Homo sapiens: one gene and its partners. The protein of the gene in region 1 interacts with the protein of each later gene in a pairwise test. Each region holds a gene or a part of one and is shown in the gene's direction. Other genes may lie near its edges.

Region 1 (3,421 bases):
GTCGGCCGGGTGCAGTGGCTCACGCCTGTAATCCCAGCACTTCGGGAGGCCGAGGCGGGCAGATCACTTGAGGTCAGGAGATCCAGACCAGCCTGTGCGACATGGCGAAACCCTGTCTCTACTAAAAATACAGCAATTAGCTGGGCTTGTTGGTGCGTGCCTGTAATCCCAGGTACTTGGGAGGCTAAGTCAGGAGCATCGTTTGAGCCCAGGAGGCGGAAGTTGCCATGAGCCAAGATCAAGCTACTGCGCTCCAGCCTGGGCAGCAGAGTGAGACTCCATCTCAAAAAAACAAACAAACAAACAAAAAAGGACACGTCTGCCATAGACATTGCTGTATTATACTCACTCAGAGGTGCCCATCTGTGGATGTGGTATGGTGGAAGAAACAGTGGACCAGGAGGGAGAACATCTGGGCCATGGGTCCAATCTACCACGGATGTGTCATCTCTGGGCCTTGGTATCATCTTCTGTAAAACACAAGTGCTTGGCAGTGATGGTCATGATAGGATTAGATTATATCAGTGTTTCCTAATGTAACCCAAGTTACCTGAGAAAGTTTAAAATATATAGCTTCTCAAGCTCTCATAAGCACACATTCTGATTTATCATAAGGACTGGAATACAGTTTGGGAATCTGTATTTTTCAAAAGGCCCCCTTTTAGGCAATTCTGATATAAAACCCTGGACCAGATGATGTTTCAGGGGTTCCTCCCAGCTCTAAAATTCCATATCCTGTGAAGTATTGAGTATCATATCAGATCCAAGTAACTCATTCATCATTTACCCTCCCGACTCCCACCCTGTCCTTAGTTCTTCTAGCCCTTCTTAGAGGCTGTCTTACTTCTAGCCCATCTTACAAAGAAAGGGAAATGAAAAGGGAAGGACTAGATCCCTTGATCCAGATCCTTACTCCCATCCCTCCTTCCATTCCCACCCCACCCCTATCTTCTGTCCTCTACCCCTACTAGATGTTGTATTCCAGCTCCAGGGCTGCCATGGGCACTCCAAGAGGAGAACAAGGTACCAAAGTCCAAGAAAGAGACAGAAATTTTGACCCATCTCAAAATTTACACATGGACCTGAACCATCTGTAGATTTTAGACTCCTTGCAAAGGCATTTTATTCCTTGGGATGACACTCTGGGTATTTTGTATTCTAATTTCTCCTTCTGCCAGATGGTCTATAAGGTTCGAACTCTTAAAAAAAGTGCGTTACATTCCCATTTTAATGTAGCATTTTGGATATTTACTGATCTCCTTCCTGCTTTCTTCTTTCTTTTCTTCTTTCCTTTCTTCCTCCCCTTCTCCTCTTCTTCCTCCTCCTGCATCTCTTCCTTCCCCGGTCAAGGAAAGGCCTGGGGCTGGAGTGGGGGTGGGTAGAGGGTTCTGATCTCAGTTCTTCCCACCTATTTAGAGAGAAGTGCGAATATTCAGCTCACCTTGCCGCCGAGACAGACCATGCCTTACCAGCTTCTTGCAGCTTTACGATGAGTCTCTCTCGGTTTCACAGGGCAGTTATTACTCATGACTGATGCTCACCGGCCAAGCCTAAACGTGTGGCACACTCCCCATACCACACACAGACACAAACATTTGCCTGGCTCACATGAACCGGGATGAGGATGCCATTTCCACCTGGGAGGAGCCACGTGACCAGGCGTTCTCAGTAGCCTCCACTGGTGTCAGGGGGAACAGAGCATTCGGCTGTTGCCGGTCTGCCTTTCCAGGACTAGCATCCATGGAAGATGGGGTCCATCGCCAACCTGCGAAGATGTGGAAGGCAAGCCCCTCATTCCAGAGCCAGAAGCTGTGGCCGGCTTCCCCTTCCCATCTCCAACCTGGGCTAATGACAGCTGGCAGATGCTTGGCCATGATGACAGGTCTTTTCGAAGATGTATTTTTACCCTCTGGATAAACAGCAGTTGGCAGGAGTGGGGCGTTTTTATGAGTTGAGGTACTCAGGACTGGAAAATAAACAGCCAGTTAATGAGCCGGTCTTATGGAAACTTGCATAAATAATAACAAAGAAAACATCCCGTCCCTCATGCCTGGGTGAGGGGATATAAAAGCTGCCATCCAGATGGCTGGCCACCGTCAGTCGTGGGGAACTCCGGCTGCGTTACCGACCTGCGAGCTGACGGGCCCGGACCATGGGGTGCTGCCCGGGGGACTGCTTCACCTGCTGCACCCAGGAGCAAAACTGCTGTGAAGAGTGCTGCTGTCAGCCGGGCTGCTGTGGCTGCTGCGGCTCCTGCTGTGGCTGTGGGGGCTCTGGCTGCGGGGGCTCTGGCTGCGGGGGCAGCTGCTGCGGATCGTCTTGCTGTGGATCTGGCTGCGGAGGCTGTGGAGGCTGCGGAGGCTGCGGGGGTGGCTGCTGTGGATCCAGTTGCTGTGGGTCCAGTTGCTGCGGCTCCGGGTGCTGTGGGCCTGTGTGCTGCCAGCCCACACCTATATGCGACACAAAATGAAGACCTTTCCCTCCACCACTGATGCAGTCCCACCGAAAGCCTCCATCTGCTCCAGGGGGACAGCCCCTCGTGTCCAGAACCTTCCATACCCCCAAGACAGTGTCTTGTCTTTCTGTGATTTGTAGAGGAGGGCTTGTTCTCCAACACCTTCTCTGGTATTTCAAGGCACCGAGAACAAGAGCCATACTCTGATGAAACATTAAAACTCGGTCACAACTAAGTGATCCCAAGCTCAAGGGTGAATCCCCAATACTTTACTTATTCACATGAAGTTCAATGTCTTGTACTATAAGACATCCTCTTCTTCAAGGTGTCTTTGGGACTGATCCTCCGCCCTGGCTTTCTGCAGCTTTGAGATGCAAAAAAGGTCCATCTTCTTTGTGAGCCTCTTAATAAATTTGAGCATGCTGGCATAACCTAATTAGTTCTCTTGCCTCTTCCTTGACCTCCCTGCTGAGGACTGGGTTAGAAAAATTCACTCTGGCATCTGCCTTAGGGTTTTTGAATTGTGGTTTTTGGATCACCTGCGTCGGAATCACCTGGGAGCTTGTTAAAACTGGAGACTCTGAGGCCCTCCCTAAGACATACAGAATCAGAATCCACCAAAGTGTGGCCTGGGAATCTGTGTTTTTAACAAGAACCTTAGATAATTCTTATGCACTGAAGTTTGAGAACCATAGATCTAGACGGAAGCTTCCGTGTGCTGCATGAGATTCACTTGAAAAGCTTTTAAAAATATAGATCATTGGGTTTTATCACTGGAGATTTTACCCGTTAGCTCTAGGGCCTAGAGTCCCTAGGGACCTGCATTTTTAAAAGCTCCTGGGTGAATGCTGATGCTGGCCACATTTAATGGTGATTGAGGGGCATGGCTTTCTTCTGCACTACAGCTCTCCTAGGATGGTTCTGCAGGAGGGCTTCAGGCTTGATCAGAACTTTCTGGCAAAGTCG
Region 2 (3,749 bases), on another chromosome or scaffold:
TGACGCAGTCCAGGATCTTCGCCAAGGCACCTGCTGGAGGCCCCTCCTGGGTCCCACGACCCCGACTGCGCCTGCCGGCTGCCAGCGAGGAGGCGGGGCCAAGGCGAGGGCGGGGCCGAGGCAGGAGGGGCGGGGTCGGCCTGATGGGCGGGGCTTCCGTGTGGGCGGGGCTGCTGGCCCTGCGGTCTGAGCCAGCGGGGAGAGGCCCGGGCGGAGGAGGCTGCGGACTCCTAGAGGTTCAGTGCCGGAAGTTGGGCCTGGAAAGGGGGCACCGCCTTCCCGGTTCTGGTGGCGGGGAGTGAGGGGACGGGCGAAAGCGGCACAGGGAACAGCATGACACGGGCCTGAGGCAGGGCACATTTGGAAAGGGGCGAGGAGAGGGCAGTGGCTTCTGGCACGGCAGCAGTGGGCATACAGAGGCAGTCGGGACCCGTCTGGAAGAGCCTCCGCCCGGGGTAAGGAGCCGGGACTGTGTCTAGGAGGCAGTGGGGAGCTCCGGAGAGCGAAGCGCCTCCTGCGCAGACTCGCGTGCTTGGAGTACCGGAGCCTGCAGGGCAAGAGAGGGTCTTCAGAAGACCCACGACGTTCCACTGGGATGCAGAGGGAAACGGTTACTTGTACTTCTACATCATCTCTTTTAGATGTGTGTGTGTGTGGTGTGTGTTGTTGTTGTTGTTTTTGTTTTGCGACAGAATCTCTGTCACCCAGGCTGGAGTGCAGTGCCAATCTCGGCTCACTGCAGCCTCCGCCTCCCGAGCTCAAGTGGTCCCCCCGCCTCAGCCTCCCGAGTAGCTGGTACCACAGGCGCCGGCCACCACGCCCGGCTAATTTTTAAAAAAAATTTTTAGTCGACACGGTTCTAACTATGTTGCTCAGGCTGGTCTGAAACTCCTGGACTCAAACAATCCTCCTGCCTTGGCCTCCCAAAGTGCTGGGATTACATTCATGAGCCTCTCGCCCACCCAGTCTAAGTGTTTTAATTTTTATCTTTTACAACAGCTTCTAATTTGTTACAAATAAACGTGCAGCATGTGGTGGGAGTGTTCAGGTGTTTACTGGTGCAGTGCGCAATGAACGCGGTTCCAGGCACGAGATGTGGAGGCCCAGAGGCAGATGCCGGGTGGCGGCGGCGCGGGACTGTCGGAGGCGCGGGCAGGGACCTGGGCTCCCAAGGCTGTGGCCCTCCCGCCCCAGTCCAGGGTCCAGTTCCAGGGGCGCGTCTGGCCCTCTGTTGCTGTCTTCTTAGGGTTCTCTCATGGGAATCGGTTCTTCAGCCTTTCTTTTCTCCCCAGAGAGGGTCTGTCTACTCGTTGTAAGAGGGAACAAGTCCACATTGCAGCTGTACACTTTGCACCCATGATGAAAAGCGTCACTTTTGCAGCATTCCAGCTGGAGATGCGTGACCTTCGGTCTGCGGCAGGCGGAAGGGCGAGAGACTTGGACAGGAGGTGCATCTTGCCCGGGGAAGGCTGAACGAATGAGAGCTCGGTCCCTGGTGAGAAAGAGCCCAGAGCCCGCGAGAGGCGGGCAGCAAGGGCTTCTCTGCAGCGGAGACGCGAGGGCGGCGTCCTGCAGGGAGGCGGGGGGCAGCGCCTGGGGCGCTCCAAGCTCTCGGCCCCAAGGAAGCCCACGCTCGGGACCCGCGTGCTGCCACAGCCCCGGGGGCCTGGAGGGTCCCGTGAGCCGAGCGGGACCCGGGACAAGCGCGGGACGCCGCGGGGAACGGACGGGAACGCGCGTGGCCGCCCCACAGCGGGCCTTCGACACCTCCTGACACGTCCTGCGGGTGCCCGGTCCTCAGTTGGCTCGAGCCGGATCCCGGCGCGCCAACGGCTCGACCTTGCCCCCCACGAGGCAGGGCTTCCTGCCCGGCAGGAAGGACTCGGCCGGCGCCTGCGGGCAACCGATGAGCTGAAGGCGCCGCGGCTGGGCCGTCCCGCTCTCCCGCCGCCGAGCGCGCTGTCCTCCCGCTGCCCAGAGCGTCGCCGGAAGTGCCGAGGGGGCGGGCCAGGGGTGGAGACTGGCGTTTCCGGCGCGCGACGGGGCGGGGACCGTAGCGGGTGCAGTCCAGCTGCTCTGGACGCTGAGGCCCCGGCTTCTCTTGCTGGGGTGTCGATTCGGGAGGGCTGAGGGCGCGGCCGAGAGAACGGGGCGGTCACCGCCGCCGTGGCCCGCGCGTCCCGCGCTCTCCTTGCAGTGCAGGCCCCAGCCGCTCTCGGGCGCGGCGTGGGGGAGGCGGCCCTGCAGGTGCGTACCCGGGGTCCGACACGTGCGGGGCTTCCTGCGAGCTGAGTCCCCGCTGCGCGTCTTCAGGCCTTTGTAAGTTGTCAAATTTCCCACCGGCCCAGCTCATCGAGCTTCTTCCCAGCTGTGAACAGGAGGGCCTGTTCCCTAATTCTTGCCGGTAAGGTACTTGCAAAAATCTGCTTCCAGACTAAAAAATTGCACTTTAAATTACCTTTTTGTAAAAGCGGCGGGGTCTCGCTATGTTTCCCAGGCTGGCCTCCTACTCCTGGGCTCAAGCGATCCTCCCGCTCAGCCTCCCTGGCAGGCGGGATTACAGGCGGCTTAAATTAAATTTACTAATTAATCACTTTATTTACTTATTTTTTTAAGACAGGGTCTCACTCCAACGCCCAGCTGGAGTGCAGTGGCGAAATCTCGGTTCACCCCAGCCTAGACCTCCTGGGCTCAGGCAGTCCTCCCACCTCAGCCTCCCTAGTAGCTGGGACTACAGACGCCCACCATCACACCTGGCTAATTTTTTGATTTTTTGTAGAGACGGGGTCTCACTATGTTGCCCAGGCTGGTCAGGAACTCTTGTAATCAGTCAGTCCTCCATCCTGAGCCTTTTGAAGTGCTAGGATTACAACTGTGAGCCACAGCACCCAGCCAAATTACATTTCTTAATTGCACTTGAGGTGAGACCTAAAAAAATGTATTGCCTACTGGTTTTTCTTCTTTGTGAGTTACCTATTCATGATCTTTGCCAATTTTCCTTCCTTTCTCATTAATATATAGAGGTCTTTATCAGATAGGGATGAATCTTTGCATTGCACGTATTCCTCCCTTTTTGGTTTTTTTTTTTTACATTAAATTTTTTTATGTAGTTGAATTTGTCAGACATCTGATGTCAGGCTTAGAAAAATCATTCCTCATTCCAAAACTTTACCATTCAAATAAGTTGTTCTTTTCTTCTGGTTTAACATTTTTATATTCAAATCCTTATAACTACCAAGAAAATTTTAAAACCCATGGGAATTTCTCTAGACATTTGAAGACTGCTGGAGGGCGCGGGCTTCCTCAGCATGGAGCTAGGAAGCTGTGGCCACGCCCACCTGTGCTCTGCGTCAGCCCTGGGTGGAGGGGGACCCGCAGAGCCTGGACCAGAGTTCCTGGGCATCCCACAGAACAGAACACCCGCTTCTGGGAGTGTCTGTTGAGCCAGGACCTTGATTGCTAGTGACAGGAGTGGGCCCAGCTGGGTGATGCAGCTCCCACAGGGCCTGTTCTGACAGTTTCCTCTGAAGGCATTCTGACCTCACTGCCCCTGGCCCCTGTACCTAGCCCTGGCTGTGATTTATTTTCCTTTTCTTTTACCTAAGCAGAAATTGTTCCAACTGCTGGTGTTCTGCAAGATGGAGCCAGGAGGAGAGCCCACAGGTGCTAAAGAGAGCAGTACCCTGATGGAGTCCCTTGCAGGTGAGGGGACATGTCCACAGTCGGGCCCAGAGTTCCAGGGCAGGAAT
Region 3 (3,749 bases), on another chromosome or scaffold:
TTCCTTTATTTTAACATAATCACAGTGTTATCTAGAAAGCTTTTTAAAAATAGGTTCCCAGATCTTACATCCGAATCTGAGGGTTATTCTTAGGCATATGTCAAATTCTTGTAATTCTAACGCAGCCAGTTAGTCAAGAGTGCATTGTTCTGAGAATATGTAGTTTTCTCTTAAGTCAATTCCTTATGTGAAAGTCCTTTCAATTCTCTTTCTCTATTTACTTTGGATTATCCTGCTACTGATATGCTATACTGTAGTTTTGAGGAATATCAAGAGAATGTATGGAGGGAAGCTATGTCAACCATTTTGAAAAGAAAGCCCAAATGAATAAGCTAGTCCTTTTTTTAAAAAAAAACCCACATTATTCAATTTAGTAATATTTAGGCTTAATACTATACAGTCTTATTTACCAAAGTCACTTAAACCAGTCTAAAATAGGGGTCAGCAATCTTTCTGTAAAGGGCCAGATAGTAAATAGTTTAGACTTTGTAGACCATACAGTCTCTGTTATAGCTACGCAATTCTGCCACTGTAGCCTGTAAGCAGCTATAGACAATATAGGTAAGCAAGGCAGGTATGTTGGTTCACACCTCTAGTCTCAGCTTCTCTGGAAGCTGAGGTGGGAAGATGGCTTGAGCCCAGGAGTTCGAGGCTGCAGTGAGCTATGATTACACCACTCACTGCATTCCAGCCTGGGTGACAGAGCAAGGTCCTTTCTCAATCAATCAATCAGTAAAATAATAGGTAAACAAATGGGCAGAGCTGTTTTCAAATAACACTTGATAAAAGCATCTGGCTTACTGGCTGTCTGCCAACTCTTGGTCCAAAGGATAGTAATGAAAAGAAACAGGAGTTACTGTTTTTACAATCCCATAAACCTCATTTGATAAGAGAGCTACTTTTGATAAAGGAAATTGTATTTTTGATCTCTTGCTTCTTGAGGTTCTAGAATTTTTATTCCTACTCCTGAAATAATTAGTATAAGCCTGGGATAGGGGAATAAGTAAGATTTCATAGCCACTTCTCAAGTTTTAAGAAATCAGTGATCTAGTTTTTGAATTTTTAATGTTTCTTCTTTTTACTTCTTAGCTGAAATACAGTTTATGAATTACTTATGAATTTTGATATCTCTGACTTCCATTACAACTGGTAATTGAGAGCTATTCATATTTGCCTATAAAAATATATGGCTGACTTAATTATCTTTTACAGAACCATACTTTGTTTTCATTTTTTTTTCCTCTGAAGAAAGACTCAGAAGCATATCATAATTGCCTGCCTATGAGTTAAACTAGTGGTAGGGAGTTATTTTTTTCTTTTTTTTTTAAGGGAGAGTCTAAGGCTCTGGAAGGGTAAGTGACACAGGTAGACTCAAAAGTTAGGCTATGATTTAGGCAGTGCTTGAGCATAGGCCATTTGACCATTTTTGGTCCTAGATGAGTTCTTTTTCTATAATTTGTTCAAACTCTGATTTAGTTGCTAATTTTGGGGTTTATATCCTTAGCCAAAGCCTAGCACCCTTCTCTATCCTAGGGAGGAGAGTGACCTTTTTAGAATTCTTGGGTCACAGTTTATTCTAGGGATGACCTACTCCTTCTTACAGCTCCCTGGGGACAAAGAGTTTGTATCATGGCAGCAGGATTTGGAGGACTCCGTAAAGCCCACACAGCAGGCCCGGCCCACTGTTATCCGCTGGTCTGAAGGAGGCAAGGAGGTCTTCATCTCTGGGTCCTTCAACAATTGGAGCACCAAGATTCCACTGATTAAGAGGTGACAAGTGTCTTGGTTGAATCTAAGGGTCCAGGAATAGAGACCTGATTTCTTTTCTCAGAAGAGAGACCCAGCTGGACTTTTCTCCACCTACTAAGGACTGTCTCTAGAACATGCCCTTTTCTGCGGCCACTTAGTATATCTGTGGGATTTTTTTTTAACCTCATAGTGAGTCAGAGATGTTTTACCCTTTAGAATTTCATTGCCTCAGAGGGATTCATAATAGCTTTATGGCTACATTCTTTAGGACTATGTCATACAAGTCCTGTCTATGCTTGTGGGAAGTCTTTTGTAACTGTCTGAGTCTTGTTGCTCTGACTTCTGCACTAAAGCAAAACACATTTTGAATTTTTAGGTAGTCATGTTATTTGTTGCTTCCAAAGCAATAATGAGTGATTTAACTGGTTGTCAGAATGGCCCTTTGTATGGTAGTTCATTCTCTAGAAAAGGTTCACCAAAACAGGGAAAGAGTACCTTGAGGCACTTCTGTATCCTAAACCTACCTATCTTATTTGCACTGGTGAGGAACTTGTTCTACTGAAGCAAAGTAAGTTATACTAAGGTGAACCATTTGAGGGGATTAATGTTTTTATTATTCTTTTCCAGATATTGGTTAAGAACTAACGTTGTTGGGAGGAGCTGGTAAATACATGTCCAAGATGATACAGAAAAGGAGAATGGGTTTATACGTTGTTTTTTACACCAGGGGATACAATGGCTTAGGAATCTGGGAAATTATTCATATGATACTATGATTGCCACTTGTTTTTTAGATTCAGTCTTCTAAAAGGAACTTGGCCTGTTTGCCTTTCTTTTTTCTTCTGTAGCCATAATGACTTTGTTGCCATCCTGGACCTCCCTGAGGGAGAGCACCAATACAAGTTCTTTGTGGATGGACAGTGGGTTCATGATCCATCAGAGGTAAGGCCTTGATCTCCAAGGGTAACCATTGACTTAGCAGTCTCATTTTAGCTGTCATTTCTGTCAAGACTGATGGGCAGCTGCTCCCCTACACTGGAGGATTTCTCTCTTGATAAAACGTGGAGGTGCTGAGAACAATCGTGTAAATTTTAGTAAAAGAGGAAGGTTGGATGGAAGAGATGGATTTGAAAGAGAGATTCAATAATTTTTTCTATTCACTGTTTCAGCCTGTGGTTACCAGTCAGCTTGGCACAATTAACAATTTGATCCATGTCAAGAAATCTGATTTTGAGGTGTTCGATGCTTTAAAGTTAGATTCTATGGAAAGTTCTGAGACATCTTGTAGAGGTAATTTTGTATTATTTACTCTCTCTTGCTGTGTCTTTCTTGTAGTTCCTTCCTAAAAGTTGTTTATGTGTGTATATACATATAGAGGGAGAGAGAGAGCAGGGGGTTGGGGGGAGGAGAGAGAGAGACAGAGATTTTTCTCCTGTAAACATTTAGGTCTCTTATTTGCAGCAAACACAAACACACACATTGTAACACAAGTCTCATGATACAATGTTTACCTTATTACATGGGATACACTCTATTTTCCATGTTATCTTTTATAATCACTAATGGGCTACAGCCTATAGTTTGAAAAGCTGTTTCTAGTAATATTTCAAGTTTTCCACTGACCTTTGATGATATTACCCAGCAGAGGCGATACATGTGTGTAGTTTGTTTGGTTTGCCCCATCTTAATCCTGCCAGTTTGAGACCTCAGTTAGCAGTTTCATGATTTTATGAGGTCCAAAAAATGTGGGGAAAAAAATGGTTTAAAAAACCAACAGCCTGGGCAATATGGCAAGACCCATCTCTACAAAAAATTTTTAAAAATTAGCCGAGCGTAATGGCACATGCCTGTGGTCCCAACAATTTGGGAGGCTGAGGCGTGAGGATTGCTTGAGCCCAGGAGGTCGAGGCTGCTGTGAAGCATGTTTGAGCCTCCTCACTCCAGCCTGGGCAGCAGAGTGAGATACTGCCTCAAAAACAAGACAACCACCCCCCTGCCCC

The links.
Region 2: the proteins of KRTAP17-1 (region 1) and ZNF696 interact in binary tests that used the Homo sapiens proteins (3 or more experiments, as listed by UniProt).
Region 3: the proteins of KRTAP17-1 (region 1) and PRKAB2 interact in binary tests that used the Homo sapiens proteins (3 or more experiments, as listed by UniProt).

The regions. Positions count from the first base shown.
Region 1 is NC_000017.11:41,314,382-41,317,802, reverse strand, and holds KRTAP17-1 (keratin-associated protein 17-1), read left to right. Parts: upstream 1-2,092; 5' UTR 2,093-2,152; coding exon 2,153-2,470; 3' UTR 2,471-2,891; downstream 2,892-3,421. UniProt on the Homo sapiens protein: In the hair cortex, hair keratin intermediate filaments are embedded in an interfilamentous matrix, consisting of hair keratin-associated proteins (KRTAP), which are essential for the formation of a rigid and resistant hair shaft through their extensive disulfide bond cross-linking with abundant cysteine residues of hair keratins.
Region 2 is NC_000008.11:143,289,364-143,293,112, forward strand, and holds the start of ZNF696 (zinc finger protein 696), read left to right. Parts: upstream 1-2,053; 5' UTR 2,054-2,404; intron 2,405-3,608; 5' UTR 3,609-3,638; coding exon 3,639-3,702; intron 3,703-3,749.
Region 3 is NC_000001.11:147,165,788-147,169,536, reverse strand, and holds part of PRKAB2 (5'-AMP-activated protein kinase subunit beta-2), read left to right. Parts: intron 1-1,603; coding exon 1,604-1,770; intron 1,771-2,597; coding exon 2,598-2,691; intron 2,692-2,918; coding exon 2,919-3,039; intron 3,040-3,749. UniProt on the Homo sapiens protein: Non-catalytic subunit of AMP-activated protein kinase (AMPK), an energy sensor protein kinase that plays a key role in regulating cellular energy metabolism.